4 linked regions of the Homo sapiens genome follow. The protein of the gene in region 2 purifies or fractionates together with the protein of the main gene of each other region. This does not show direct contact. Each region holds a gene or a part of one and is shown on either strand. Other genes may lie near its edges.

Evidence for each region.
Region 1: the proteins of CELF5 (region 2) and PAIP1 purify together in Homo sapiens (affinity purification with mass spectrometry; 2 studies listed by BioGRID and IntAct, with this or other methods). This does not show direct contact.
Region 3: the proteins of CELF5 (region 2) and SMAP2 purify together in Homo sapiens (affinity purification with mass spectrometry; 2 studies listed by BioGRID and IntAct, with this or other methods). This does not show direct contact.
Region 4: the proteins of CELF5 (region 2) and ERI3 purify together in Homo sapiens (affinity purification with mass spectrometry; 2 studies listed by BioGRID and IntAct, with this or other methods). This does not show direct contact.

Annotation. Positions count from the first base shown.
Region 1 is NC_000005.10:43,526,078-43,534,093, forward strand, and holds the end of PAIP1 (polyadenylate-binding protein-interacting protein 1), read right to left. Parts: intron 7,716-8,016; coding exon 7,661-7,715; intron 3,803-7,660; coding exon 3,709-3,802; intron 1,393-3,708; coding exon 1,299-1,392; 3' UTR 190-1,298; downstream 1-189. UniProt on the Homo sapiens protein: Acts as a coactivator in the regulation of translation initiation of poly(A)-containing mRNAs. Its stimulatory activity on translation is mediated via its action on PABPC1. Competes with PAIP2 for binding to PABPC1.
Region 2 is NC_000019.10:3,219,668-3,227,999, forward strand, and holds the start of CELF5 (CUGBP Elav-like family member 5), read left to right. Parts: upstream 1-4,993; 5' UTR 4,994-5,072; coding exon 5,073-5,331; intron 5,332-5,610; exon of another isoform or gene 5,611-5,951; intron 5,952-8,332. UniProt on the Homo sapiens protein: RNA-binding protein implicated in the regulation of pre-mRNA alternative splicing. Mediates exon inclusion and/or exclusion in pre-mRNA that are subject to tissue-specific and developmentally regulated alternative splicing.
Region 3 is NC_000001.11:40,411,389-40,419,404, reverse strand, and holds part of SMAP2 (stromal membrane-associated protein 2), read right to left. Parts: intron 6,390-8,016; coding exon 6,303-6,389; intron 5,247-6,302; coding exon 5,165-5,246; intron 4,134-5,164; coding exon 4,024-4,133; intron 3,230-4,023; coding exon 3,064-3,229; intron 2,626-3,063; coding exon 2,309-2,625; intron 1-2,308.
Region 4 is NC_000001.11:44,316,559-44,324,574, forward strand, and holds part of ERI3 (ERI1 exoribonuclease 3), read right to left. Parts: intron 3,187-8,016; coding exon 3,070-3,186; intron 1-3,069.

The sequences.
Region 1 (8,016 bases), on a different chromosome or scaffold from region 2:
GGAATTTTAAAGTTTTAATGTTTTATATTTGCTAGTTTTTCAAGGTAGACTTGTTACTGAATTCTTATTCAGAGAATGAATAAAATATCTTCTAATATGATTTCTTTGATTTCAAACCATTAAGTAAATTAATTATGTCATTTAAGTTCAACAGCAAATTATTTAAAATACCAGATGCTACTTCAAAAATTTAGAGGAAACAACTATTTAAGCTTTATTTTCAAAGTCTAATTTTAATTCAGACTGAACAAACAAGCAGAAAAGTGAGAAAGCTAACTGTATTAGCAGACACAGATGTACCAAATGTAAAACAGTGGGTTATTAACAGAACTATTTACATGCATATTTACAAGCAATCCTTTTGTACACAGTTTTTAGTTAGCTGGAAAAAGATTTGACATTAGGTAAAAATATTATTTATTAGGGCTGAGGTGGTACCACATTATAGTAAAAGTATTAGAAAAGTGACCCTCAAGGTGTATCAATTATAAAGCAGATGAAAACTTGAATGACAAATATCTAGTAAAATTCTCTAGTAAAAAAGTCGATGCAACCCATGCTACAAAATAAAAGTGAGAAAGCCATATAAATAAAGCAGAATAATGTTCTAGCCTTTAAGGTAATGAAGTTAGTCAGTTGAAAAAATAAAAATAAAAAAGAACAATTCTAGAATTGGAATAAATCTTCAGTGAAGTCTTGGTTGTTTAGCTGGGAGTTCACCAAGTTGGGTTTTTCCCCCCCATGACATTTAAAAAGCCCTTGGTATCAAATAGCATCTGCATATGTAAATCAGTTGTTGATATATTCCAAGACTTTAGTGCTAAAGATTTTCAAGATTATGATTCATATTTGAAATTCAATTCATTGGGACACTAAATGTCAAACTAAAATGAAAGCTATAATACTCCTACCTAAAAAAGGATGCTACATTTTTGCAGTAATATGTATTTCCAGAAGAAGACTTTTTCCCCTCAAGAAAAGTAGAATTTAAAGGATAAGCATCTAACCAACTAGCAAAATTTTCAACATTTCATTTATTTCAAAATCGATTTTATTGCAGCCAAAACAGTAGAATTAACTGTACATAATAAACTATTATATATATATACACATTTTAAGTTATAGGGAATAAAGTTTATTTTGGCAGATAGTGTTAAACAAAATTAAAGTTGCATACATTAGTAACATAACTCAACATCCTTAATTTGGTATAGATGTGACATTTTCTTGCTCTCTTGTGTTCTGCTAAATCACCATACCTAAACTGCTTTATAAAACTGATATGCTGAAATTTAACTTTACTGTTTTCGCTTACGCTCTGATTCCAAACAAAACTTTTCATAAGCTTCTTCTATCTCTGGGTCCATCTCATCATCAATATCATCCAAGTATCTGTAAAAGCAAAGATGATTCATAAGTGTAAGGTTTTTCAACTCAGAAAGTAAGATGCTAAATCATGAAAAAAATAATGTAATACAACTTTCCTAGACTGACTTATAATAGAACACAAGCCTAACTTTAGAATTACATTAATGGCAGTCTTCGGACAACCAAATGCTTAATTTGGTAAGTAAAATTTTACAGATTCTGAGTCCCTTGTGTGTGAAATTATAGTAAAGAATATATATACTTTTAGACATAAGTTAAATTCTATAACCTGAAAGTTAATCAAAGGCTTGACATATAAACTTGGGGCTCAAGATCGATATTAATAAATTTACCTTACCAACAAACAATTAGAATATAACTATTAATAGAACATAATTTCAAATATGCCATTCACCTCTAGTGATGCACTAATATTTTGTGTCTACTTAATAACAGAAAGTGCTATTCCTGCTATGATTTCTGCTGGGTTATTCCCATGATGACAATTTAGTCACATTCCCATTTATTTGGAATCAGATTTTCACAGGAAGCTACTTTTGAGATCATCTATTCCAGATTTTTTTCCAACTATTAGGTAGTTTAAAATGGTGGAAAGCAAGGCTTCCCATAGTTAAGTATGGCGGGAAAGATTTAAAGTGTCAATTAAGGATTTAATCTACACATTCTTACTGAATGTCCATAGCCATCTTAAAAAGATATGCATTACGATCATCTTCATTTTGGAGATGGAAAATAAAGAGATTCTGGAAGGTTAAATGAACAATGTAAAATTTTAAGTGTGTGGCGGGGCCAGAATTTGACTCCAGGTCTTACCCCTTTTCCTCCATAACATGATTCTATCAACATCTTCCCCACCCCTCCAATAATCCAATCCCTTCCACCTACAAGCATGAAAAAACAATCTTGCCAACCCTACCAACTGCTGATGAGTCCTTTTCTGTTTCTTCCCCATTTCCAATACAGGGCCATGTGTTGAAATAACCATGAGCTCATTAGGGCAAGAGAATATGATGCTTACCAAATAAACTTAAGAGGATAACCTGAAGTTCAATGCCAAGAACAACTTTATCTTCCAGCGGTATACCCAAGTAGATGGAACTTTCCTAGTTCTGCCTGGGTCCTTAAATCCCTGTATTTTTTTTGTTTTCTATTAAACTAGAATATAGAAGTACAGCAACAATTGTATTTCTAGATCTCAAACCGACACATAATTAAAATATCACTAGAATAAAAGTGGTTCACTTTTTTAAAAAAATCTACAACACAGGAGATATTAAAAAAAAAATAAGTTCAAGATATAATTTATTCCCTCCCATCTCCTACTTAGGAAGAAAAGAAACTAAGTAGCCTGTCCAAATATACACAAGTTGTTAACAGAATTGGTACTAAACCTCACAATTTCCTGGTCCTTCTATAAGAAAATGTAGTGCACTCTGATGGTAAGTGAGTAATATGTTTAAAGGGATCTTTAATTACAAAGAGTGGCAGGTGAAGAAACAGATATATAAACAGTCCTATAATTAACATCTTCTTATCAGTTCAAACATTTTTACATAGTAATCTGTTTTCTTTACTCTTAACTTACCCTTTAATAGCTAAGATTTGAGCCTTCTACTGTGTGCCGGAAGGCTAAGTATTTATGTATTCTCATGTAGTTCTCAAGAAAAAAAAAAAAAAGACTCAACAGGTACTACTATTCTTATTTTATAGATGGAGAAGCAGAACAGAAGTTGCCCAAGATCTTACAGTAAGTTTTAGAGCTTCTTAAAGTCTAAATACAATAGAATCTATTTTAAAAAAATAATTATGCTTAAGTATACTATATTTTAATGGTTATTTTCCTCAACTATACATTTTTCAGAACTAGTCTGTGAGTTAATACAATTTTCTGAAAATTTTTAGTACATAAACACTACCACATAGCACCATCAAATCAAAATGCCTTTTTTTTTTTTGAGACAGAATCTAGTTATGTCTCCCAAGCTGGAGTGCAGTGGCACGATCTCGGCTCACTGCAACCTCTGCCTTCCAAGTTCAAGCAATTCTTGTGCCTCAGCCTCCCGAGTAGCTGTGATTCTGTGATCCTGGCTAATTTTTGTACTTTTAGTAGAGACAGGGTTTCGCCATGTTGGCCAGGCTGGTCTTGAACTCTTGGCCTCAAGTGATCTGCCCTCCTCAGCCTCCCAAAGTGTTGGGATTACAGGCACGAGCCACTGCGCCTGGCCCCAAACACCATTCCTTCATGAGCTACTTTGTCTAATCTCCACCTATAAATTAGACACAGAAATTTCACGAAGTTAGTAACTGAAGAAAACTTACGGATCACCAGCCCCGGATAAATCTGTTCCATTTTCTTCATAATCTGGAAAAAAGTCCTCTCTTTCAAGTAATTCTTGGTATTTCTCTTGGTAATCTGTAAGACAACATAGGAGAAAAACTAAATACTGAAAAAATATCACATGAAATGACCAATCACCCCTAAATGTTTTTTAATATTATGACTTTTGCCCCCCTGCATGCTCAGAAATCTTAAAGTAATTACATATAGTACTATAGATATAAGTTGGAAATCAAAGCCACTGTAGGTGATGTACATTCATAGCCAATGTGTTTATATCCTCTACTGCTGCTTTCCATCAGACAAAATAATGGTTATATAACTGTTGGGGAAGAACAGTCCTTCCATTGGAAAGATATTAATCAAATACTACTGGTTTCCAGCTCCCTCTGTACTCCTCCACAAGGAAGTAAAGAAAGCAGGTAACAACAATTGGTCTCTGTTCCTCAGATGAAGTTAACCTACCAAAAGTTTTAACAATGGGGGATTTTCCTTCCCTTTCTTCCCAGAGAGATGGGGAAGGCAGCTACCTGGTAAACGTTTCAGCTCTGCCAACTTTCCTTTCATTGGGTCCTCCAAGGTAATACAGGTGATATTACACCTATCTGCCAATTGTCTTAGGAAGAGTTATTGGGTACCTTTTAAGTTAAGTATTTCTTTATGAAGTCCTAACCTCTGAATAAAAAAATGAATCAGTATATATTAAGACTAGTTACCTTATAGTTTCTTATGAACAGAAGCCAACGGAAATTTTGCAATTATATTAGACTGGGTAAAAGCCATGTTCTTCCAAGACTGTGTCAGTCTGTATAAAACCGTAACTCCAGCTTCAAGGGCTGGGGACATTTTGATACCCAATTTTGACAATTTAGAGACCGTTTTAACAGTAAAACCTTCCTGCTACAAAAAGACAGGCATTCTTTTAAATGTATGGATAAGTTCACAAAAAAGAAAATCCAAGTCATCAGGTCACAAATGAAGAAGGAACTGAAAGCCATATATAAACTGCAGCTGCTGCAGCTGGGAGGCTGACAGATGATGTTGGTCTCGGTAACTAAGGGGCTTGGATTTTAAAACCCACAGAAAGCCAGAAAGCAAGGTCTTGGGCCCCATGTGAAACAGGAAAATGAAATCCATGCTCCATGCCCAACCTCACCTGCACAAACCTGGGACCCTCAAAGGTCTGGTATCTTAAACAAAAGGTGAATCAGGAAAAAAGACCAAGAAATATCTCAGTGGTATTTTATCTTCCCTGCGAGATAGCAGGAAGCTTGGTCATGTCTGCCTGGGTTTGGAATAGGGACAGAGCACTTTGTAGAAATTGGTGCCCCAGAGAATTTTTAACAATGGGCCTGCACCTCAAATTCCTACTACCCACATAAAGAACCCCTATGACAAGAAAACAAAAAATTTGTCCAAGTCAGTGATACCTACTCTGTGGCTCCTGGCAGAAGGAAATATAAACCATTTTGGACAGAGGTTCCTATAATCCAAGCCACAGTGTTTTTCATTAAAAAAAAAATGAAAAAAGAAAAAAGAAAAAAGACAAAGCACTGAAGCATTTAATCAGGGTCATATTAATATGAAACTTCAAATGGTTTAAGAAAAAAAAAAAAAGTGTGTGGACAAGGTCAGGAAGTCAAGACCAGCCTGACCAACATGGTGAAACCCTGTCTCAATAAAAAAAAAAAAAAAATACAAAATTAGCCAGGCGTGGTGGCACAGGCCTGTAATCCCAGCTACTTGGGAGGCTGAGGCAGGAGAATTGCTTGAACTCAGGAGGTGGAGGTTGCAGTAAGCCGAGGTTGCATCACCGCACCCCAGCCTGGGTAACAGAGTGAGACTCTGTCTCAAAAAAAAAAAAAAAAAAAAAGAGAAAAAAAGAAAAGTGTGTGGAAAGAGCACAAATGATAAAGCAAGTAACTGTTAACAAAAAGTACACCTGGGTAAAAGGTATTCCTTGTACAATTTTACTTTTGTAACTTTTCTGTAAGTTTGAAATCATTTCCAAATAAAAGTTTAAGACGGTTAAGGCAAAAATTTTATGTGTGATGATCAGAAATAACAGAAGGGTTATAATTAAGAGATAAAACAAAAATATAAGACAGAAGTAAGCATGTTTAGAATGATGAGAAAAAATAACTTGAAACTCTGAGAAAAGGTCAAGATTATTTGAACAAAATGCAGAAACAAAATTTAGCTTGATTTTTCTGTAAAACTGTAAGATTTCTTTTACTTTCATGAAGTATAGCAGATTAAAAAACGTTTAAGAAAAAGAAACTGAGATCTACTGGCTGTCTACATTACTTCTTTTCCTTGAAAAGAAACTGAACAACCAAACTGAATTTCTGTAAATCGAACAGTACTAGAAACAATTAAACAGGTTAGAAAAAATAAAAAACAAATAATCAAAATAAATCAAGGTAATTTTTAAGAATAAGAGGAAAGATTTGTCTTACCAGACATAGCAAGATTCACAGTAAGGTAAAAATAATTTAAGTGTAGTATTGGCATAGAAAGAGATTAACAGAAAAAAAGATTCACACAAACACAGGAATAAGACACAATTTGATAGAAGAGTTACATAGTATACAACAAAGGGGGCTTATTATAACTAGGAAAGGAAGGATGGCTTAATACCAATTGTTGAGACAACAGGCAATGGAAAAGATAATTCCTATGATATCATCCTATATAAAAATTGCACTGGTAGATTAAAGACCTAAAAATAAAAAAGAACAATGATTTTTAGAAGAAAACAGAAATGGTAAGGAAACTTTCTTAAACCACAGAAATTACAAACAAGACTGATAAATTTTGTTCACATTAAAACTCAAAGGTTCTACATGACATTATAAACAAAATGCAAAGACAGGCAAATACTGAGAGAAAGAAGGTAACCAAAACCCTCAGCTAAGAATCACTTTGTTCTAGACTACAAAAGGAATTACAGATCAGTAAGACAGACAAATGATCCAACAGAAATATGAACAAAGAGTATTAGCAGGCAATTCTCAAAGAAAGAAATCAAAAAGGTCAACAAGAACAAGAAAACTTCAATATCACTTGTCAGGGAAATAAAATATCAGCAAGATAGAATTTCATACAATCTGATGGACAAAAATTAAGTTTAATAAAAAGTATTGCCAAAGATGAGGAGCAGGAACCCTCATGTGCTGCTGATGGGAAGATTAAGTGGCATAATCATGCTAGAAAACAATTTAGTAACATTTAGTGAAGTTTAAGATGCCCATAGCGTGTAACTTAATTCTACTTCCTTGCCCTAAAAAAACTTCTCTGTGCTAGAGACACAGGACAGTCAATGCTTGGAATCCAGAGGAAACAAATGGAAAAATTCCAACCATAAGCTGGTTGCAGTTTGTACCAAAGGGAAAAATTTCTCTTCCTCACTCTACAGTTCCATCTAATACAATTAAGGCAATCTTTCTATAAATGGTCCTCTTCTGGAAGAGGAAATGTGCAGAGATTTGGATTTTAATTAACTGTCACACACCAAGTATGAATGAAATGTGTAATTCTTCGTGTAAAGTATTAACCCATATTAATATATGTTGCTGACTATGCAGTGAACTAGAATCGTCTTTCCCCTCCATTCTAATCACCTGAAAATTTAAGATTATAAAAAAGTTAGAGGAAATATAAAATTAAAATAGTTGCATTTAATTGAGAATTCTTCCCATCCTCTGTTGTTAAGTGACAAGACATTATATGTGGAATCATACTTTCATTTGAAATGTTTCAAGTGGTCACTATGAAGAGCATTCTATATTAGACAAACCATTACACTGGTATTTTAGAATGATGTGAAGACATCAAAAAGTTACAATCTTGTGCTGGTGAGGATGTGGTTTTCTGTAAATTTACTACTTTACCAAACAACTGGGAGGAGGGAATGACTGTGAGACAACATACCTGGATCAGCTGCAGTGAAAGGAACACCATCAGATGTATAAAATGTTGGTTCATTCTAGGATGAATCAAAGTGATAAAAATATGTAATCATTTCAGAATTGATTTTTGTAAGTACAATAATGAAGCATGGCTGATGTCACCCGTCTGCACCTAATAATGCAAGAACAAGCAAAGGAACCTAACTTCCTGGTAGCCATTTTCACTTCACTGAGAAAGTCTATGGTTTTCAGATTTCCATGCCATTATCTCAAGTTCTTGTGGTTCTAACGGTGCTGTCTATTGTCTTTCAGTGAACTGTTCTGTTGTGCATTGTCATTTAGTGTCAGTGCATTTTTAGCTGTGGTTTCCAACCCCAC
Region 2 (8,332 bases):
AGCTCACAGCCTCACTATTCTCCGTGCTCACAGCCTCGCTATTCTCCAGGCTCACAGCCTCGCTATTCTCCAGGCTCACAGCCTCGCTATTCTCCGTGCTCACCCACCCCCTTAGCTGTGCCACGGATGAAATTCAGGAGGCAGAATGCTGGGTTTAAGTGCTCAGAAGTCAGACCCGAATTCGGTTGGGCTCTTGTTTTGGGTGGAAGAAAGAGGAGGAAGAGGCTGAAAAAAGTGCATCTTTGGCTCATAGGAGTTTGTGAGTTTCTCTTTTGATTTTGTTTTCTTTTGAGACAGAGTTTTGCTCTTGTTGCCCAGGGTGGAGTGCGATGGTACAGTCTTGGCTTACTGTAGCCTGGACCTCCCTGGGCTGAAGCGATCCTCCCACCTCAGCCTCCCAAGTAGCTGGAACCACAGGTGCCTGCCACCACACCCGGCTAATTTTTGTATTTTTTGTAGAGATGGAGTCTTGCTATGTTACAGCTCAGGCTAGTGTGGAACTCCCGGGCTCAAGCAGTCCTCCCAGCTCGGCCTCCCAAAGTGCTGGGATTACAGGCATGATTTTTCTTTTTTTTTTGAGACGGAGTCTCGCTCTGTTGCCCAGGCTGGAGTGCGGTGGCGCGATCTTGGCTCACTGCAAACTCCGCCTCCCGGGTTCAAGCAATTCTCCTGCCTCAGCCTCCTGAGTAGCTGGGACTACTGGCACACACCACCACGCCCAACTTTTTGTAATTTCAGTAGGGATGGGGTTTTGCCATGTTGGCCAAGATGGTCTCAATCTCTTGCCCTCATGATGTGCCTGCCTCGGCCTCCCAAGGTGCTAGGATTACAGGTATGAGCCACCACACCCGGCCAAATTTTAGACACGGGGTTTCACCATGTTGGCCAGGCTGGTCTCGAACTCCTGACCTCAAGTGATCCACTTGCCTTGGCTTCCCAAAGTGCTGGGATTACAGGCGTGAGCCACTGCGCCCGGCCAGGCGTGATTTTTAAAATTCTTATTAAGGACTCTCCCAGAACACCAGAGGCTCACGGGGCTCTGAGCATCCTGCTTGAGTCTCCATGGAGACGAAGCCTATGTCTCCTGGCCGACTCCACCAGCCCCAGTGCCACGCTGTGCCCGGCCAAGCCTCAGCTGAGTCTAAGCACCTGCGTCTGTGCTGGGCCGAGTGGCAGGATGTTGTGGGAGAACCCCTGACCCCTTGCCCAGCTCTGCTCGTCACCCAGTTCTGATGTTCTGTTCCATCTGGGGGTGGCCAGGAGGCTGCCAGTAACAGCAATGATGAATAGCCATTCACTGAGCTAAGCTCCCAGACACTCTGCTAAGCCCACATTTTAGTTCATGAGTCCACACCAGACCAGGGCCTTCACCATATCCTCTTTTTCTTTTTCTTTTTTTTTTTTTGAGATGGCGTCTCACTTGGTCGTTCAGGCTGGCGTGCAGTGGTGCGATCTCGGCTCACTGCAACCTCCACCTCCCAGGTTCAGGCGATTCTGCCTCAGCCTCCCAAGTAGCTGGGATTACAGGTGCATGCCACCACGCCCGGCTAATTGTGTATTTTTAGTAGAGATGGGGTTTTGCCACGCTGGCCAGGATGGTCTCGAACTCCTGACCTCAGATCATCTGCCAGCCTTGGCCTCCCCAAGTGCTGGGATTACAGGTGTGAGTCACCGTGCCCGGTCCCTCTCCTCTCTCTTTAGTCCTGCTTGGCAAATAAGGAAACTGGGGCTCAGCTGCCTGATGTGTGGGGAGATGGTATGGGATGGTGGGAAGTGTGTGTGCTCCAGAGTCTGGCTTCCTGGGTTTACATCCCAGCTCTCTTACCGTGTGGTCTTGCACCAGCCACTGGAGCTCTCTGGGCCTCAGTTCCCCCTCTAACGCGGGTGGACATTTCATACAAATGGCGTCACACGCTGTGTGGTCTTCTGTGTTTGACATCTTTCACCAAGCATGATGTGCTCAAGGTATGGCTTGGGTCAGAGCCTCATTTTTTTTTTCATGGCTGAGTCGTGTTCCATTGGCTGGATGGAGCACAAAATGTCCTCTAAAGCCAGGCATGGTGGCTCACACTTGTCATCCCAGCACTTTGAGAGGCTGAGGCGGGAGGATTGCTTGAGCCCAGAAGTTTGCGTACAGCCTGGACAACATAGCAAGACTCCATTTCTACAAAAAATTTAAAAATTAGCCAGGCATGGTGGCATGGACATCTGTGGTCCCAGCTACTCTGGAGGCTGAGGCAGGAGGATCGCTTGAGCCCAAGAGGTCAAGGCTGCAGCAAGCTATGATCATGCCACTGCACTCCAGCCTGGGTGACAGAGCGATACCCTGCCTTATAAATAAATAAATAAATAAAATTGTAAATTAGCCAGGTGTGGTGGTGGGAGCCTGTAATCCCAGCTACTCAGGAGGCTGAGGCATGAGAATCACTTGAACCCAGGAGGTGGAAGTTGCAGTGAGCCGAGATTGCACCACTGCACTCCAGCCTGGGCGACAGCAAGAGCCTGTCTCAAAAAATAAATAAAATAAGAATTAAAAATTAAATTTTAGGCTGGGCGCAGTAGCTCATGCCTGTAATCCCAGCACTTTGGGAGGCTGAGGTGGGCAGATCACCTAAGGTCAGGAGTTCGACACCAGCCTGGCCAACATGGTGAAACCCATCTCTACTAAAAATACAAAAATTAGCCAGGTGTGGTGGCACATGCCTGTAATCCCAGCTACACTGGAGACTGAGACAGGAGAATTGCTTGAACCCGGGAGGCAGAGGTTGCAGTGAGCCGAGATAATGCCACTGCACTCCAGCCTGGGTGACACAGCGAGACTCTGTCTCAATAATAAATAAATAAATAAATAAGTACGTTAATAAAATTTTACACTATTTGGGTGTGGTGGGGTGCAACTGTAATCCCAGCTACTCAGGTGGCTGAGGCAGGAGAATCATTTGAACCTGGTAGGTGGAGGTTGCAGTAAGCCAAGATCACACCATTGCACTTCAGCCTGGGCGACAGAGAGAGACTCCATCTCGAAAAAAATAAAAATAAAAATGAAAATAAAATTTTAAATGGGTGTAACTCTGTGGAGGGAAAAAGAAGGCTGAGAAAGGAGATAATGGTGACTGAGCGGTTTTAGATAAGGTAGATGGGGAAAGTGATGGGGAATTAAGGAATGAGCCACACATCATCTGGGGAGAGCACATCCCAGACAAAGGGTACAGCCCGTGCAAAGGCCCTGAGGCAGGACCGCACCTGACAAGTGAGAGGAACAGCGAGGAGGCCTGTGTAGCTGCAGCAGTGAGGAGGGGGAGAGAGGGAGCAGGGGAAGGTGGGGACAAGGCAGAACAGGACACGCAGAGCCTTGTGGGCCTCAAGAAGGACTTGGGCTTTAATTATGGGACATCTTTGGGAAGTGTTTTTTTTTTTTTTTTTTTTGAGACAAGATTTCATTCTGTCGCCTAGACCAGAGGCAGTGGTGCGATCCTGGTTCACTGCAGCTTTAATATCCCAGGGATCAACCGATGCTCCCACCGCAGCCTCCGAGTAGCTGGGACCAACGGTGCACACCAACCACTCCTGGCTGATTTTTTTTTTTTTTTTTCTCAAACAGAGTTTCACTCTTGTTGCCCAGGCTGGAGTGCAATGGCGCAATCTCGGCTCACTGCAATCTCCGCCTCCCGGGTTCAAGCGATTTTCCTGCCTCAGCCTCCTGAGTAGCTGGGATTACAGGCATGCACAACCATGCCTGGCTAATTTTTGTGTTTTTAGTAGAGACAGAGTTTTCTCCATGTTGATCAGGCTGGTCTCGAACTCCTGATCTCAGGTGATCCACCTGCCTCAGCCTCCCAAAGTGCTGGGATTACAGGTGTGAGCCATCGTGCCTGGCCTGTTTTCTTATTTTTTACAGCAATGGCGTCTCACTATGTTGCTCAGGCTGGTCTCCAACTCCTGGGCTCAAGTGGTCCTCCTGACTCTGCTTCTCAAAGTGCTGGGATTACAGGTGTGAGCCACCACGGCCAGCACGTATTATTATTTTTATTAATATTATTGATGAGTTTCATACGTAAAGGATCACGGGCACTTTAGAGCTGGGAGATACTTCAGTATTTCTCCTATCCTGTCATTATCAGTGCGAGCCAGTCTCCCTCCTTGTTGATGACATTATTGATGAGTTACATACTTAAAGGGCCAAGGACACTTTCTATGTGTAAGCACCCTATAGAACTGGAAGATACTTTTACCATTTCTCCTGTGCTGTCGTGATTAGTGGGAGCACTTTGTCTTGCTCTTGATTAATTATTATTAGTGTTGTTATTATTAGGTGTTTTTTTTTTTTTTTTTTACCAAGACGGAGTTTTGCTCTTGTTGCCCAGGCTGGAGTACAATGGCACAATCTTGGCTCACTGCAACCTCCGCCTCCTGGGTTCAAGTGATTATCCTGCCTCAGCCTCCCGAGTAGCTGGGATTACAGGCACCCCCCGCCACCGAGCCCAGCTAATTTTTGTATTCTTTAGTAGAGACGGGGTTTCACCGTGTTAGCCAGTCTGGTCTCGAACTCCTGACCTCAAGTGATCCACCCACCTCGGCCTCCCAAAGTGCTGAGATGACAGGCGTGAGCCACCGCGCCCAGCCATATTATTAGTGTTATTAATATTATTGATGAGTTACCTACTTTAAGGATCACGGGCGCTTTCAACGACAAGCCCCCTACATTATCCCAGCAACTTTTGACATTCTTCCGGCCGATGCCCTCCGCGGGAGCCGGCGGGGACCCCTGGGAAGCCGGCTAAGGCCCGTCCCGCCCGCAGCTCCGCCCTCGCCCACCCGTAGGCGGGGCCCGGGGCCTTCCGGCCTCAGTTTCCCCCCGCGGCCCGGGGATGCGGGGAGGCGCCGGCTGCCCCGCGCGGCGCGGCCGCCAGGGGCCGCTGCGGAGCCGCCTTTGTGGTCCCGATGCCGGGGCGGGCGCGGGCGGGAGGAGGGCGCGGGGGCCCGGGAGGGAGGCGGGAGGCGCGGCCGCCGCTCCAGCTGCGAGTCCGCCCGCCGCCCGCCGCCGCCGCCGCCGGCTCGGTCCCGCGCCCGCCATGGCCCGCCTGACGGAGAGCGAGGCGCGCCGGCAGCAGCAGCAGCTCCTGCAGCCGCGGCCCTCGCCCGTGGGCAGCAGCGGGCCCGAGCCCCCCGGGGGGCAGCCCGACGGCATGAAGGACCTGGACGCCATCAAACTCTTCGTGGGCCAGATCCCGCGGCACCTGGACGAGAAGGACCTCAAGCCGCTCTTCGAGCAGTTCGGCCGCATCTACGAGCTCACGGTGCTCAAAGACCCCTACACGGGGATGCACAAAGGTGGGCGCCCGGCCCCCTCCCCCCTCTCCCCCTCCCTCCGCCTCCCACCCCACCTTCCGGCATCTTCTCTCCCCCATCACCATCCCTCCTCTGCTCACCTCCCTCCTCTGCCTGCCTCTGCCGGAGCATCGGTTCTTACCCCCTCCCTCCCACCCACCCCTCCTCCCCTCTCTGGGGGTGCAGCTGACAGATCCGAGCGGGCCCCCTCCCCTCCTCCGCCCCCTCTCCCTCCCTCCCCACCTTCCGGCATCTCCTCTCTCTCTCCCTCTCTCTCTCCCTCTCTCTCTCCCTTTCTCTTCTCTCCCATCTCCCTCGACCTCTCATCCTTCCCCCCACAGCACCCTCTCTCTCCCTCCCTCCCTCCCTCACCCTTCCATCCCCCAGACCCCCACCCCTTCCTCCCTCCCTCACCCCACTCTTTCCTGCCCGTTTGCCAGGGGAGCCTCGGGAACGCCGGCACCCCTCCCTGCCCCCCCACCCCCATTCATTCAGCCTCCCCAGGCCCCGTCGGGGAAGTTTGCACCTGCGGACTCCATTGCTTTGGTTATTTTCACAAAGCCAGGCCGGCGGGGCAGGTCCGGCCGCGGGGGACACGGATGCCCAGGACCCCAGGCTAATCGGTAACTACAAAGGAAGACGGGTTGGGGGCGCCCGGCTCGGGGGGACGCGCCCGCCTCGCCTGCCTCGGGTGGCGGAGAGGCTCCCGTCGCTGCCCACCCCCTGGCCCCACCACCTCCGCGTGGATCAGCATTCTCTCCTCCATTTCTCTGCCCTCCCCCTCCCCCGCCTCCACCTTGGGCTCAAGTTGAAACTGGCCGAGCCTCTTAGCAATGTGTTGGGGTCTCAGGCCCAAGACAATGAGCTTGGACGTGTCCATCTGGGCAGAGCCCAAATTCTGGGGTGGACAGGGAGGAGGAGGGAGGCGTGGGCGGCCTCAGGCCTGTCTGCCTCCCTCCCACTGGATTCTCCCTCCGATGGCATCCCGGGTGGGGGTGTCCGGCAATTGTATCCCCAGCCCTTGGTTCCCATCATGGGCCCAGCGTCTGAATTGGGGTGGCTTTGACAGCCTTCCGGTCAGGTGTTGGGGACTGGGGGTGCCACTTCAAAGGCCTTGTGCTGGACACCCCCGGCCCTCCCCCTCCCATCCTCCAGGAAGACCCTGGAGAGGCCTTGGGGAAGGACCGGGGCCCATGACCTATTTTACACCCACTTTTTCCCCAGCGCTGCGTGCCCGGTAAGCATGAATGCATGTTTATTGAATGAATGAATTGAATGAATGAATGAATGAATGAATGAATGAATGAAGGGGTTCAAGAAGGCCCTAGGGAGGGTCTGGTGAGATGGGGCCCAGGCCTGTCACTTCAGCTAGACCCTCCAGCTGGTTATCTTGAGGGAGGAAAGAAACCCCTCCCCATTCCCCATCTCTTTTCAAAACCAACCATCACACACACACACACACACACACACACACACACACAAAATTGGGCCTGAAAAATCTAACTCCTCCATGTGGCCTAGGAGGGCAGAGGGGCTCCCATGCGGCCCCCATAAGTCAATATCTGGAGTCCAGAGGTGATAGGTGGGCTTTTCCCACACGCCCCCACCCCTGGGTACACCCAAAGCACCCATTTCTAGAAAGATTCCCGTGGGAATGGGGGAGTCCACATGGCCCCCCAAACGGTTGCATTGAAAGGCCGCTGGTTGAGCTCTAGGTCGGAGAGACAGGTGGGGGTGCAGGGACTGGAGCATCCTGGTGACTCTTCTTCATCTTTTTTTTTTTTTCCTTCTTATTTTTAAATCTCTGGGAAACCTGGGCACGGGAGAAGTGAGGGGTGAAGGAGGGGCTGGGGCTGGGTTTTCACCTGGCCCTGAGCCTCAGTTTCCCTGCTGTCAACAGAGCAGGACCATGACGCATCCCCAGTTCTTTTTTTACAGGTTGGAGAATGTTGGGGTCCCTGGGGTACCTCGGGGGTATTTCCCATTTGCGGGCTTTCCTTGGAGGGTGAGAATTGAGAAGCCGTGTGCACGACAGCCGGCAATCACCCTCCACTTTTTAGGGGTCCCAGGTCCGTCTGTGTGTGAGATACAGGGGCTTCACCTCGTGTCGAAAATGGGTCCAGTACCCTCGGGGAAGTGAATCCCCACCTGCGTGGGGCCTGGCTGGACTTCACCTGGTCTTTGCCTGCAGGTGCTTGGCACGAAGGGGTGGGGGGGTGTCTTCAGAATCAGCATCTGTGATCCAGGTTTGCGTTTGGGGCTCAGCTGTGTGACTTCTGGCTAGTGACTGCCCCTCTCTGGGCCCTCTCTGGGCCTTGGCTGAAGGGAGGTGGAATGGTGAATGGGAAGTCAGGATTTTTGGGGAGAGGAGTGAGTTCAGACACCTGCCACCAACATGACCTTATTAGGGCTGTTTCTGGGAGCCCTGGCGTGGTTTAGTGTGCCTGTTCAGAGTGGCAGGGCCTTGGGGATATGGACCCCAGGCCTGGAGAGAAATCCCTTTCCCTGGATGCCCGGCGGGGCCCATGAGACTGGGCACAGGAGATCTGTAAGGAGTAGAGTGGGGTGGGATGAGAACACCCTGGAGGTGCACCCGGCTCCTGGTACAAGCCCGGAGGGGGTCAGCTGGTACCACCTCTAGCCCTTCCTTGGTGTCCAGGCTGCAGGGACTTGTTTGATTTCCCCATGGAACCCATCGCCATGGAGGTGGGCTCCGAGTGACAGCGCATTTCTGGGAAACTGAGGGCTTGAGAGACATACCCTGGGTCCCACATTTACCGGAGCTAGGCCCCCATTACCCCCCCTGCCTTCCTCCCAGGCCAGGAGAAGCAGCTGTGCCTGTATCTGTGTGACATAGGGGTGACAGGTTCCCCAAAGCCAAGAGTGAGGCCCCCAGAGATGGTGCTGGGGATGGAGGGGCCCGTGACACCTGACAGCCACAGCTGGCCTGGCCGAAGGTGGCGTGGGGGCAGCCAGATTCCTAGAGGCCGTGCTGAGACTCAGA
Region 3 (8,016 bases), on a different chromosome or scaffold from region 2:
GGAGGCTGACGCAGAAGAATCACTTGAACCCAGGAGGCGGAGGTTGCAGTGAGCCGAGATTGTGCCACTGCATTCCAGCCTGGGTGACAGAGTGAGACTTTGTCTCAAAAAAAAAAAAAAAAAAGAAAGGAAGAAAATTATCTTGGTATTCAGAACATTTCACGTGTTTGTTCTAGTGATTACCTTCATAGTAATACTTTTTAGCAATGTCCTTGGTCTCCTTTTTCCTTATTCAAGCTTCCGTGATTTGGTTTGTCAGCTTATTGCATCCTTCGATTTCTACTTCTTTCCCATACAATATTTATTATTCAACTTTTCTCCCTCCTCCTTCATTTTCAGTTGTATTTGTTTGTCAGAATATAATGTATATTCTGCAACGCTTGTCACCACCTTTGTTTTAGTCTTAGATTCTCAATTAAACATTCAATTCTCACCATCAGTTCTTTTGCCAAAAATGAAAATGACCCCAGTCATCTCTTAGGTGGATGAAGCTTATCTTCTGTTAGATTCCCCAGGAAAGTCTTGTAAGTGTGATATTCTCTGAGTTCTTGCATATTTATTTTTTACAGCCTTGATACCTGAAGGATAGCTTGGCTGGCTTGGTTGTAAAATACTTGTTGTGTCTTGCATACACTTGAGTGTCTTTAAAATACTACTCTCCTTGTTATTCTTTTTGTATTTTGCTGCTAGGAAGTCTGATGTCAACCTGGGTATTTTTTGTTTGTTCTAAGTAACAGATTTTTGTGGGTAGGAGGTATGGAAAAGGTTGGACCCCTAAACATTTTGAATGTTCTTTAAAGTCTGTAGATTTGCTGGGATATGTTTTAAAGTTGACTGTTCTGGGTCAATTTTCCCAGACACACAGTGGGCTCTTTCCATATTATATCCAAGTCTTTTATTTCTAGAATGTTTTCTGGTGTTAAACACATTAATACTGTCCCATATTTTATTTATTTTGTCTTTATTTCTTTGGGCATCTCCAAATATATGTAAGTTTTCTTTGCCTAACTTCCATATTAATTTCCATCTAATTCTTTTTACTACTTTCTATATTTAGTTTTCATTCTCTTAGCTGTTTCATGCCTTTCCTCAATGCCGAATATATTTTCAGCTCAATCTATTGTTCTTTAGCTAACTTGTAATTGAGTCTTTATACGAAAATTTTGGCTTTTTCTTCAATTTCTTTTCTGAGTTTAGTAAACTTTCATTTCACAGCATGCAGTTTTTTATCCATTTTGGCTTTAAGTTTTTGAATTTCTGATTTAAGGTGTTTTGTCTTATCTGCAAATGTTTAAGGACATTTAATTCAGATTGGTAGATTGTGTAACAATTTTCTTCTGCTTCATGACTGTTTTTTGAGGGAGAATATTCATTACGTGAAATGTTTTGATTTTCATTTTCTATTTTCTTCCTGTAGTAGTTGTGTACAAATGTCAGCTTCCATGTTTGGTTCATTTTTGTAAGGTCTTATTTTTTCTCAATCAGCAATAATAGGTGTGAAGGTTTGGGGAGGCTTACTAAATTTCTTAGATTAAGAGCACCATCTTTTATTAGTGAAGTGGTTATTTTGGAAGAGGGAAGAAGGTGTATATTTGATTTTGTGATTCTCATTCCCATTTCTCGTGTCTTTCTTTCCTTCACCACCAGTCCTCTAAAGGGTACCTCCTCCTTTTAGGCCATGCCCATCTCCCCGAGAAGCAATGCTTTCCCAAGGTTACTACCTATACTCCTATATATCTGAAGTCTCTTATTTTTGATCCTCCAAGTAAACAGAGTTCTAATCTACCACATCTCAGACCTGTTCTCAGTATGTCTTTGATGAGGGTAGGTCCTTCTCCTTCTGGGGGGTTACTTTATCTGTGGTATTATTGCTAGGCCCCTGCTCCATCTTCTCTTTTTACAGTCTCCTCTGTGATGCTGGCTCCGCTGGATTTGGTGTTTATATGCCCATTGCCATGCCATTTGAACCTTGCAGTATTCTGTCTACCAAATGAGATTGTTGTGAGAATATCTGCATTCATTGTTTGTACAGGGTTTCTTTGTGTGTTTGTTTTTGCTTTTGAGAATGTGTGGAGAGATTCAGATTTAGGCAGTTGGGCTTATTCTACAGGAGCCCAGAACTCCTCAGAAAGTCTGACTTTAGACAGACCTTCTAGGAAAAAAAAAAAAAAAAAAAGCAAACCTAACAATGTCTCTTACATTATCTCATCTACATGGAAAGGATTCAAAGGATAGTGGAGAGGTACAAACCGAGAAAAACTTGAGGAAGGCTCAAAACTCTTGCTGCAAGTAAAATGGGGTAGCTTACCTGAGTAAGGTTCCATTGCAGCTGCTGAGCTGGCTGGACCCCATACACAGTCTGGGGCATAGCTGCCATGCCTGCCATGTAGCCAGCCTGCTGGGTGGTCATCATTCCATTCGGCACACCCATCATTGATGCCTGCATGCCACCCATATAGCCTGCAGGCATGGCCATGGGGGCAACCATCCCAGAAGCTCCTGGCTGAGCAACCATGCCTACTGGTGGAGGCATCATGCTCCCCATTATGCTGTTAGGAGGTGTAACCCCGGGGAAGCTGGGGTAGGCTGTGGGATATGCCATCTGAGCGGGAGCCATGAACATTGCTGCCAAGAAAACACACATACAGGTTGGTTAAAGAGGGAAAAACATAAAGTCAGCCCGAACTCTCCCTGGCTAACCCTTTCCAGCTGGAATTTCTCAGGATTACTCTACTCACAATGCTCTTTACACAGCAAAGTAGTTAGAGTCCCTACGAGGCCTGCTATAGCTTACCAATGGGCTGCTGACCGAGCCATTTTCCCTTTAGGGTCCAGATCCAGACCTTGAGCTAGACTTCACCGAATTGTGACCCCAGACTCCACAGAAGTATGACTCTGAGTTACATTAATTTCCATCTGCTGATACGTTGGTCATGTTCAGGTTTGTTTGGTGTATGACATCCTGGCCCCCAAAGCAACTGTCCTCTGTCACAATAAATAATTCCTGCATGGAAGCCCTCATGTCTCTACCTGGCACATGGCCATGACACCCATGAAATCTACCTTGAGTAGGCATTTGAGGCGTCTGGGATCCATACAGTGAAAGAATGGAGTCTTTAGAGAGCTGTTTCTTGCCTATTTCTTCTGATTTGCTCCCTGGCTCCGGAAACAGGTTCAGATTTTCAGGAACAGAGCCGGCACTCCCTGCAGTTGGCATGGAACCTACAACCTTAGGGCAAAGAGGGCGGGGGGAGAATTGAAATGGTTCTCATGGGGGTCTCTTTAAGGGTCTCCCTTCCCTCTCTGCTGCTCCTAACATCTGCAATAAGAATTCATGGCTCAAGTTAATAGCTTCCTAACATTTTTACCATTCAACTATCTGAACACACCTGATAATTAAGCTCTGTTACAATTCTTTCCTTTCACCAAAACATGTGATTTGGTAGGAACAAACAAACAAAACAACCCACAAATGATGCAGCAGAGGGAACTGAGTTTAGACCCCAGTGTAGCCATTTACTAGTATAACCACAGGCTAGTCACATAACTTTTACAAACTAATGTCTCCACATCTGTAAAATTTCCACTTTGCAGGTTTGTGGTGAAGGAGTGAAATTATTAATGAAATATACAAAATGATATACAAAAACCACCTCACACTGTGCCTGAGACATAGCAGGCGTTTCACGAATGGTAGCCATTAAAGGTTTCAAGTCTTTCCTACCTACAATTTTCTGGCAGTAACTCAGGCCGAGGAGCTAGCCTCAAGTATCAGCCTTCACAGTATCACACACTTTCCAGAGAAGCAACTCAAATGGCCCACCCTTTTTGAGCAGGAGAAAAAAAGGCATGAACAGCAATCTTAGACTGTGACAGAAATGACACAATGTTAAGGGAAGAATGAAGAATCAAGAAAACCAAAGTCCAACTCCACCAAGGAAGCATGACGTGGTTCCATGATTAAGATATCAAAATCACCCATTTCAGAATGTTCTTTAATCCTGAGGAGCCCACAAGACTCACCTTTCTGGAACCGGAAGAAGAAGGGGATGGAACAGAGGCCAACAGATCTAAATCCTTCTCTAGGGTATTGCTGGTCTTACTATTTGCAATGGAGCAGGCCACAGGAGCATCTAGAAAGAGAGATCGAAGTTAAGATGCAGCACTGCTTATTAAGCCCATGCCTTCCTTCTATTCTAGACAAAAAGCAAAGGTGGCCCATAAGCTCATGGACCTAGAAATCTAGACTTCTGGAACCATCTAGCATGGACGGGGCTTCTCAAAAGAGGCTTCACCCCACATTCCCAGAGTGCTCTGGGGAAGCCTGTAGCCCAGCTATCAGGCACAGGGCAGCAGACGCCCAGGCCTGAAGGGTATTTCAGCACCACAGTGGGGGGCTGGCTGGCTCCCTTCTGGCTATTTGAAGGGCAAGGTATGGAGGAGGGTTCATTTTCAGAGAGCAAGGAAAGGTACAGAAATTAGAAGCCTAAGTAGCCAATAACCTCAATCAGCAGAAGCGGATGGAAACAAAGTGCAACCATCAGTGCTGTGAAAGGCAGACAACAGGCTTTCTTTCTGAAAGGGCAGAATCACTAGTTCAGGATTTCAAAGGTTTGGAGAAAAATGACCACAGGCCATCTCAGAAACAGGTTGCATCTGAAAAATGAAAGGAATGGGGGCAGGGAGTGGAGTACAGGGAATTGACATGAGGCTCAAAGGTGCTGTTTAGCAAAACTGCTAACATTTATGGAGGGCTCAGTATGTGCCAGGCATGGGGCTAAGAGCTTTAGAGGCATTATCTCATTTAATCCTTCCAACAACACCTTTGAAGTAGAGACTCATTCTCACTGCACGGATTATGAAAGCAACATTCAGAGGTTAAGTAAACTACCCATGGTCACACAGACAGTAAGTAACACAGAGCGACACTGGCTCCAAAGGCCATGCTCTTAACCACTACACCACACTGTCGCTCTGAAAAGTGTCACAGTAAACACTTCCTTAGAGCAACTGCTCAGATGTAAAACAGATCAGGAAGAATGTGAGAGAACAGTCTTGGCAATGAAGACAAAACTGGAGAACCCCATCTCTACCTATCTTCCAGGGTCACTGAGAATTTATCAAAATTTGTAAGAACATGGAAGCTGAAAAGTCCAACTCTTACCAAGGCCCAACAAATCCATGACAGGCGCTGTGGATTTCGGGGAGCTTTTCCGAGGTAGCTGTGGGTCTTCTTTTTTCTGTGGCTAAGGTGAAAATATGTTATAGCAAGAAATAAGCAGGTGGTTTTGAACTCTTTTCCCATCTCCACTGTAAAGCCACGGTGTTCTTGTGGGTAGGGCTGCTGTTATTCAAAGAGAGTTACCAAAGAAACAAAACTCAGGAAGTATTAGGTGAAAGAATCAAGTCAGGAGGCAGAAGTGCATAAACCAAACCTAAAATGAAAAACAAAGATATCGCCTGTGATTGTCTGGTGTCCTAAAGAGACAGATCTTTCTGAAACCAAGACAACCACAGAACAGGGGATCCAACAGAAGCAGCAGTTTTTGGTCCCAGGAAAAGCCAAGAATAAAGGTAGGTATCTGATGGTACAAGAGCCAAGAGCCAACAAATCTCCCAGTGGTTAGAAAACCTTTTACTTTAACACCAAAAGGGAGGTTGGTTTAAAGATTACCTAATTCACTCTGCCAGTATCACTAGTGATTGTGTCCACAGACAATGTGATTCAGAACGATGATAAAAGACTCTTCCTTAAGCAATAGTAAGTAAAGTCCTCTCTCCCAAGATTCCAAGTTTTTATGTTAGAGATTCTACTACTACAGCCACAATATGTCCTGTGGAAAAAGAAGGGTGTCTGTTTCAACATGACAAAGCAAGAACATAAGAAGGGATCACTTAAAATGGACTAATATGGCCTCACTTCTGGACTGTTCTTCATTGAAATCAGAAAATGGGATACAGAAGGTCTAACAAGAGAAGGACTAATGTGGAAATAGCATCTGCTCAGATGGTGTCCCTCAGCCTTGGCATTCTGGCTTGGAATGTGCCTCTTGCTTAGATGGAACAGATGCATTTCCTGAGTTCTCATCTGGCCCCAAAGCGAAGCCCTTACAGAGCAGATTTAGGCAGCAACTGGTAACGAGAGAGCAGAAATGATAGCAGGCAGTCCAATCCAGATGCAGAACCCTTTAGCCCCAGCTGTGATGGTGCAATGGTACTCACCACGAGACCTCCTACTTTCCCTTTCACAAATATACACATACCTGAGGCTGTCCATACAGTGCAAATACTTCCCAACTTACCATTTTCACCTTCTCAAAAACAACAGGTTCCAATTTTTTTTCTGGAACTGGTTCGCTCCCTCTTTTCCACTTGTCATCTTTTTCTTTCTATAATGATTTAACAAGACAAAGAACACAGGGCCCAAGGTGACTAATAGTTGGATAAATCATAATTCCAAGTGTCCGAAAAGGACACCTCCAATCCCTATTGATTCTGACGTAAGTGTCTGACAAGCTTGGGGGGCGGTGTCTTGGTGTGGAGCATGAGAGTTGACCTCTTCCACATTGGCCTCAATGCTGTACGAGGCGTCTTCCAAACACCTTAGGCGCCCGCCCTCCTAACCCACTCATGACTGTTGACATTTGCAGTCGAGGCTATGTACAGACGCTAAAACATTTTACCAGTATGCTGCCCACCTGTGCCCCAAATTTAATTTGCCCATGCTTTGAGAGGTCTCCCCTCATATCAGTATACTAGTGAATAAGTTCATCTTACTCAGCTTATGTCCTTTGTGATATCATAAATTCAATCATAGGTCCTCTCAATATTCATTTTTTTAACAGTCAGAAAATAAACCTTAATTTCAAGTTTACAGATTAGAAGAACAAAAATTAAGTTTTAAAATCAAATAAACATCTAAATGTAAAACAAAACCACAAAGTAACCTTAAGAATACAGAGTATAGCATACATATGAAAAACATGTTTGGTCTTGCCAGTGATAAAAAATGCAATTTAAAATGCACTTTATGCAGGGAGAAAGATCTTTCTATAATGGTGGGAGGGATGAAGTGAAACCAGTACTCTTATACAATGCTGAGAAGAGAGAGTAAAATGGTACAAATTCTGGAAAGTATATTGGCAAAACTAGGAAGAGACAAATGTTGAAATCCTTTGACCTAGATGATACCATATCTTGTAATGTATCTTACGAAAATAGTCCAAAATATGAAAAAGGTTAAATGCACCAAGTTCACCCCAGAATTATTTATGCTAAAAAAAATTAAATAACATTTATGCCACAGAAGGGAAATGGTAAATAAATTATTACTTTCAGTGATTTAGCTACTCACTGAAAGATGATGCAACAATTAAAAATTATAAACACTATATAAGCAACACAGAAATATATGTTAAGTGGAATGAAGGCACGAGAAGTCTACATAACTGTATTATAATTATGCCTCCAAAAAGAAACTATTTAGAAAAAAAGGGGAACACACCAAGAAGATAATTATTAGCAAAGATAGTGAGAGTATGTATGGATATTTCACTTTAATTTTCATTTTCTCTAAAATAATTTTATAATCAATACATGCAGCTGTTTTTCTCATACAAAGTGTATGTCTTTAACACGACATTTCATTTAAGTTAAAAATGTTTTATCTGTCCATTATAAAAAGAATAGTTTTTAACAAAGCCAGTTTCTTTTCATTTGATATTAAACGTCTTCACTTAGCAAATACTAATTATTGGCATAAAAATCTTCACAAAATATGAAAAAAATCTAAGTACATTAAATAACAAATTCTGAAATAGCTTTTTGGTAAATGGGAGGTTATTTCCTTCCTAAGAGAAACATCCGGTAACCGGGCTTGCTTTCATGGGTACAGTATACCAGCAATGAAATCATGAATACCCTGAGGGCAGAGCTGCTGTTTCCACAATAGCTGTGTACAAATAGCAACTCTACTCCTTCGTCATCTGAATTATCTCAGATACCCTTTTCTGACCT
Region 4 (8,016 bases), on a different chromosome or scaffold from region 2:
TCTCCTTTCACAGTTTATCTCCAACACAATCGTATTCTGACACCAAGACAGTTTGTTGATTACATAAGCACTTGTCTCTGGTGTGCAATCTGATAATCAGACCCACTCTTTCTCTTCAGACAAAGAGACCAATAAATCTCACCCTTTATAAGTACAGGTGCAAGACAAAGCCCTTTACTGGCACTTAGCAAAATGAGTATTTCTCTAGTTTTTTTTTCATGATAACAACAACAAAAAGAAGACATGGTTAGGGACTGTGCAGCAGCCCAGCTGCTAGAGATAGAGACTTGATGAACTGGAGCAGATTCTAGAGGTCAAAGGGAAAGGGCTCGGGAAGGAATGAAACACATCCCATCCTATCTCTGTCAGAACCACGTCTCCAGGCCGACTCTCAACTGAAACTAAGAAGGGACCTCAAGAAGGGTACTAACACATTCCTAATATGAAGCAGTAAAAGTAGGAGTCTCTCTGTGTGTGCTAGAGACTTGTTCAAACTGGAATCCTTCTTCCTACTGTCCAGCACTGAGCCTGCTTCTCTCCCCAAGCATGTGCCCATGTGTGTGCACATGTCATACGCATGTGCGTGCACACACACACACACACACACACTGGGGTTAAGAACTTCTTGTGCACAAGAGAGAAAATCCTGCCAGAGGAACTACTTAAGTATAATCTGGAGGTTTGGGACTGTTCCTCACACTTACTAATGAGAGATTTTCTCTGGTTGGAATGACCTCCATCCCCACCCGCAAAAGGCACCAACTGCCAGGTTGGATGAGGTTTCAGAATGACAGCCCCCATCCTGTGTCTATGCCTCTCGGAGATACAATTCCATCTGGTATGGAGACAGGGCAAAATATATATGATCTGAGGTTTTCCAAACAAGACTTTACTTACTTACTCAAAATAACAAGTCAGCAGTACAGTTGTTTTTGGGAGAGACAGAAAATAACTCCTTGACAATATTCATTCATTTAAGGGACACGTATCAAGTGTTTACTTGGTAGCAGACCCTAATGATGGGATGGAGATGGATCAGGTCTAGTTTCTTCCCTCAAAGAACTTATAGTCTAGTGAAAAGACAGATAAATAATTATAGTATAAAGTATCTGATCAGTTCTATGTTGGAATAAGCACAACTCAATCTGGGGATCAGGGAAAGTGACCCTAAGCAGAGTCCTGGAGGTCAAGCAGGAGTTGGCGGGGAGAGTGGGAACTCTGTGCAGGCAGGAGGACCATCATGTGAAAAGACAGACTGTAAGAGGGCAACCTCTGGGTGAGGGGAGCTAGGTGGGAGATGAAGCAGAGAGATATGAGGCTGGCCAAAAAAGGATGGACAAGATCATGGCGAGTTTTGAGCTCTGGAAACCTGAGACAAAATGGCAGACCCGGTGCCTACAGAACAACCACATTTTCACTTTTAGAACAGCCTTCATAATAAAGATCCCAACTACCACTCCTACTCCCCTCCAAATTATGTATGTGCATCCTTGGGTGAAGCTTTCTAGAGAGAAGAAACTGTTCATCATAGTCTCACAATCCCTCCTCCCATTCCCACAAAAAGTAGCAGCAGCAGCCTTACTCTAAAAGAAGTCCCTCTTCTTCCGATACTCTCAAGCATCCACTCCTGCCCAGGGTCCAGCTCCAGCAGAATACTGTTACATTCCTAAACAGGTAGCAAACTTACTAAAATTTGGGCCTGCCTGTCTACGTAAGGACAAGAGGACATTAGCCTTTCAAGGCCAGTGGAGGGCTCAGGTAACTGGCTGGCTTAAAGAAAGTCTTTCCTTCCCTTCGCATAAGCAAGGGAATTTTCATCATCATTAAAATGGTGATTTTTCAAAAAGGGCAGAAAAGTCAGATTAGCGCCCCCTGGTGGTATAGGTAAATCCCAGGGGAAAGGGGAAACCCCGGCAGAGGAAGGCGAAAACCAGAACCCAACATCATTAGTTGGAATAACAAAAGGCTTAAGAGGCTAGGCGCCTTGGCAGATGGATGCCTGCAACAAAAGCCCCACCTGGGTCAGCTGGCAAACACTGGCATCGAATTCAGGAGCAACCTCGAGACCTCCTGTCTGGGCTAAGTCAGCCTCAGGGCCCACCAGGGTCAAACAGGCTCATCCCCAGCCTTCTTACCAAGGAGACTGTTTGGGATAACTCAAGAACCCTTTTTCACCTATTTCATTCACATGTAGAAGATAGGTCTCTAAATGAAGGCACAAAGTCTCTAATGTACCTCAGCCCCAGACTCTTAAAAGATTCTCATCACCCCTGCTACCACACATTCTTAACCCCTGATTGCACCACAGCCTGTTGGCCACCACTGAGTGCATTACATGACATGTCACAGGGAAAAGTAGCCACAGAAGACTTCACACAGTTCTGGGAGTTAGAACTTGCAGGGGCTCCTCCCCTCTGCCAATGGCTCTTTTGAGCCTCCAGCAATCATTAAAATCTCAGTTAGGCCCAGTTTCACAATCTGTAAAATGCAACCAATACTAACCTGCTGACAAGGAGGCCAAGTACAGTACCCACCTAGGATAAGCAGATTTCAGCCTTGGCCAGCCAGGTCTCATGCTTCACTGAGACCACTCTTCTCTTCCCTCGGTGACAGAATGTACCTTCGACAAACTCAACCTACGCTTCACACAGGACCACTTTACAGGAGGACAGAGTAACAATGCCAGAAAGCTAAGAAGGCCTGAACATAACCCTGCCTTCCAAGTGGCTGAAATCTTTACCTCTTGCCAAGGGGCCCTAAGGAAAACTGAACTGGAAAGAACTTGAACCCCAGAAATGCCATTCTGCTCCTGGTCTCCAAGTGCCGGTCACCAGGAAGGGATGCTGGGGAAGCAGGGGTAGACTAAGCCACTGCTCTCCCTGGGTCCCCAGTAACAACAGTGACCTGAGTGGAGTGGCAGACTTCATAAAACCTAACTGCTAGGTCTAGTGTGCACTTGCCTTAAGGATTGATAAGCCCTATGCTTTCTCTAAGTGGCCTATATAGAGCACCAAGGATTCCAAAATTCCCCTCCCAGCAGCCCCTGCTGCCCACTTCCAGGGCCCTTACCTCTGTACAGAATGGGGTAAGCTGTGGATGGACTACAGGCTGGACATACATGTGAAAGGTAGACTCAATCTCCATGGTCCGGCCATTTAGCTTTAGGATGGGGAACTCGATGATTTCCTGGAGTGCCAAAGATACAGAAAAGGAAAAATAAGTTATTGTAATCAACCATTTCCAACAGTAGCTCCAAGTCAACAAAGAATGAGTGTTTTGGATTCATTAGTGTTTTGGGTTCATTAGCTCCTGCCAGGCCAAACCCAAGATTGAGTGAGACGGCACCAGCAGTTACAATCCTAACCTTCCCACTGCTAATATCCTCATAGGTTCCAGGGACTGAACACAGCCCTCATCCCCATTGTTTCTGGAAATGGGAAGGAAGACAGTGGTATCATCTGCCCCAGTTTCTCCAACTGGTTCTCTAGCAGAGGCTTGCTAACTTGAGCCCCTAAGAATACGCCCTTCTTTCTCTTGCCCAGGTCCCTGTCCTGAAATGGGTCTGATCTCCTGCCATATAGACAACCAGCCATCAGACCAATGCATAGATTTCCTTGTATGAAGTTTGAACCAAGCTGGTAAGTTTCTTCATTAGTTCTTATTTTTCAAAAAAAGATAAAAAATAAAGCCAAAGGGGATCCCAAAGAGAAGGAGAAAAGAGTAACAGTAATAGGAGCTAGCGCCTCCCACCTTTCAGGCAGCACACACTACCTCTACAACGCCAGCCCAATCGCTTAGCTAGCCTTTCCCAGTCCACTGAAACATAATGGAAGAGAAGGACAAGGAGTGACAATTTGTTTGGTGTCTCTAAGATTAATTTGTCTCCGCTATTTAATAGAGATGCACAGCACCAAGGTCCTGGTGTGCAAACAGGCTTGCAGAACGCTGGCTGTGCAGCACGCCTCATACATCGCTCCTGGGAAGGGAGGAACGCACCAGAGTGGGGAGAGGGCAGAAGAGAGCACGTGCGTACCAGAGAGAAGAGGGAAAGCGAGGAGAGAGAATAAAAAAAATTATTGCTTTTTAATATTCAAAAACAGTTTGCAAAATTTAATCAAAGCAGAGGAAAAGCTAACATTTTTACCACTTTGACATTTTTATTAGCGCTTTCATAAATTTTTAAAACATGAATGGAATTAGTTTACAACACAAAAAAAAACTGCCCTGAAAACATCTGGAAGAGACAAATAGGAAATAATAAAAAAAATAAATAAAAGCAAAATTCTCTGAGTAAAATTAGCATGTGGAAAGGGCCTCCACTGCAGAGAGAAAGGAAGGGGGCTCTGCCTATTCAGTGACCCTAATAGTCAGCTCCAGCAGCACCCCTTCCCCAGGTCCTTCATTCTGGAGAAGACCTTTCCAGTATCATTAAAATCAAGGTAAAGTGGTTCTCTCCAGAGACAGCCTGGAGAAGCAACACGAAACGGATGACACCTGACTGCACTTAGGAAATTGATGGGTGGGAAAACACAAGGAGAAATGGTCAATCTCCTTGATGTCCCAGGAAAGCCAGGTATCCTCCCGGCAAAACATACCCACTAATATTGGGCTTGTTTTTAAAGCATCTATTTCAATCCAACACATCAGGACCGAAAACCAAATCAAGTCAGTCAGACTTCATGCCAGAGAGATTCAAAGATTGTGGTTGCCTTGTCTCCGTGGGCTGATCTCCAAAGATGAGGAAGCTGACAGGAGCTTATTCCCAGAGATAGAAAGGGCAAAATGGCTGCAAGGCTGAGGCAGAGGGGAGAGAAGGGAGGCCCAGACTGCTGCTTAGACCAGGTAATACCTCTCCTTCCAAGGTGAAGAGAGGGGGACACTCATTTCCCAATTCCCTGGACCTTCTGTTCCCCAAGAAGCATTACATACAGAGTAAATGGGGGTTTGGAACTGAATAACAAAATCGAACACACACCAAAAAAATACACATTGGTCCCCCTGCAAAATCAGGTATCCAGGATTCCAAGAGCCAACTCTGAGGTGTTGCCCATGAATCAGGCTCATCTGACTCCTGATTTTTCCGATGTGTCCTTCCTCTTCCCCTAAGTAGAAGAAACACTTCCTCAACAGAAAGAGCTCTATAGCCTGGTGAGTATGGCTGCCCTGGTGTCTAAGGAAACAAATACAGCCAGCTCCTCACTAACAATGTTAGCTGGGCCCACAATGAAATTTAACCTGTGACACAACTGTACTTTTCATTTAAACTTTCATTTGGAGAGCAGCAGTGTTTGGAGACCTACAGTTTGTCCTGCTAATAAAGACAAGTGTTGGGACCTTTAAGGATGCCATTCATCTTTGGCTTTTTATTAAATTCAATTTTCTTAAGCCCATGATACATTATGAAATTAGGAGTTGACATTCCTCTGGAAATAAAAATATCTATCAAACATTAATAGAAAAAAACCCTCTATTACCAAGAATTTATGGCTTAAAGTTGATCTCTTTCCACTTTTTTACAAGCACATGGTTTGTTTTAGATATCCGAAATGCTATTATAGATCTAGGATTTCATTAGTATTTATTATAAAATAGTATGTGCTTCAGCTTCCACTCTGACCAGCACCAAGTCAACATCCCCAGCAGACTCTCTGGAAACTTGGCCTTTGGGTTTCCGCATTGCAGCAAATAACAGCAAATACTGTAGCTCAATATTCAAACTTTCCTGATGTTAGCTTCCTCACCCATAGGGAAATGGGGCCAACTACGTGCTGAAACTCAGTGCCATGCTCCCAGAGAGGAAGAACAAGCCAGACTCGGATCCACGCAAAAAAAAAAAAAAGGAGGGGGGTAGGCCCCTGAAATTCCCAGGGTGCCTACACCCAAGGCTCAGGACACATCAAATTGGGCCTATTATAAACATATCTCTGATAATGCTAGCTCATCAGCCAAGCCTTCTCCCCAAGACCAAGAAGAGGTGGTTTCAAGCACCAGTCTCAAAACGTGACTTTGCAGGGGCCCTTCCTCCACAACATGAGGAGCTGTTATTAACAATGAGCCTACACACTGGCATATTCACTTGAGCTACTGAGGATGCAAAAGAGAAGCTTCTGAGAAAAGACTCTCTGAGAAATTAGAGCAGCAAGGACCTCACTGAGGTACTTCTTACCATCCCATATTGCCCAGCCAGTACTTCCATACTTCCCAGAACCTCAAAATACTGGCCCAAACAGCCCAGTAGTGGGAGAGGTGCCCCAATCTGCACCAAGTTGGCACAACTCTGCAGCCAGGGCACCTGAAGCATGACAAACATTTTGAAGATTTTTAGCTGATAATGATCAGAGATGGAACCCCAACACTACAGGTTAGTGGCATTAATCCCAACACAAAGATTTGTGACAATGTGCCCAAGTGCCAGCCTCTATGTCCAGTTGCTCAGATAATGAAACTGTTATTCCTGACCCTGACCTTTTCTCTCAGCCAATTTCATCATTCCCCTAGGAAGAGGTTTATTTCAGAAACAGTTTTGTGTAAAAGTAGCACCAGGAAGGAAGGAAGGACCAGTCGTATTTACCAGCCCTCTTTCCCTATCCTAATAATAGCTTTACAATTCTTTGCCTTTGTATGCCATTTGCATTCAATTAAACTACCTGAGTGCCTACTTTGTGTAGGCTATCAGACAGGGGCTGGAGCAGGACTAGAGATAAGATGTAGTCTCCACTTTGGAGAAGCACATGGACTATGAGTGGAAAAGATAGGCAAACAAAGAACAGTACACTGTGATAAATACCTTAGTGGAGGGACGTACACAGTGTTGTTTTTCCATTCACAAAAGTGTAGTTTCACATACATTTTCTTATTTTACCCTCCTTAATCCTGGCAGACAGGTTACATCATCATCACCATCACCATCTTCAGGTCATAAATCAATACTATTAAGCATCTACTATTCACCAGGCAGGGGCTGGCTGTAGACACAGAGATGAATACAATGAAAGGTGGCTCCTCTCTCTGAGATGCTCAAGTCTGGGCAAAGGGTGAAGAGGAGCTGGCCTCCAGTGCTCTCCAAGACATGTGGAAAATGCAATCGTTTTATTCCATTTATTGTTTACTACGTGGCAGATACTGTGCTAATAGGAATGATCTCATTTAATCCTCCTAACTCATGAGGTGGGAATCATAGTCATCCCTATTTCACAAATAAACTAAGGCCCAAAGATGTTAACTCACTTGCTGACACTTACACTGCTTGTGAGGGACAGAGCTGGAACTCCAAAATGGGAAAATGAGAATGAGACTTAAGAGTAGGACTAGCAGCTTTCAAAATATGAAGGGTCAAGAAAGATCTGGTTCTCTTAGTCTAAAAGGCTATCCTGTAGAGAACTCAAGTCTACCATCTAGAAAGAGAGGCTGCTCTCAAATTTTAAGAGCAATGAATGTGGACTCTCCAGGCAGAAAAGTTCTAGAGTTTGCTACTGAAAAGACTCCACCATGGCTGCAGTAACACAGATGGCACAGATGGCATCAGGGAAGGCAGGAACCATGTGCCTTCAGTGTGATCTCCAGCACCTAATTCCTATGCTGGCACACAGGCTTCACTCTCTCAACTTTTGTTGTGTAATCACATGAAAGGGCTGCTAAGTGGAGGAGACAAGCCAAAGGCCTAGCTGTACCAGAAGACACAAAACTCTCCGCAGAATCAGAGAGGGGAAATGATCTGCCTAAGATGTCAAAGATGGTCAGTGGTACAGCCAGGATTCAAACTCAGATATTTCACAGTTCAAAGCACTTTCTACTAGATCTACTCTCATCTCTGAGTGGTTTCCTCCCTGAACTACTATAAACCACCAAATCCCAGTCTTACCTAGGGTAATCAACTGTTTGGTTGATCAGGACCAAGGGTTTCCTGCAACATAGACTCTTTTTTTTTTTTTTTTTTTTTTTGAGACGGAGTCTCGCTCTGTCGCCCAGGCTGGGTTGCAGTGGCGAGATCTTGGCTCACTGCAAGCTCTGCCTCCC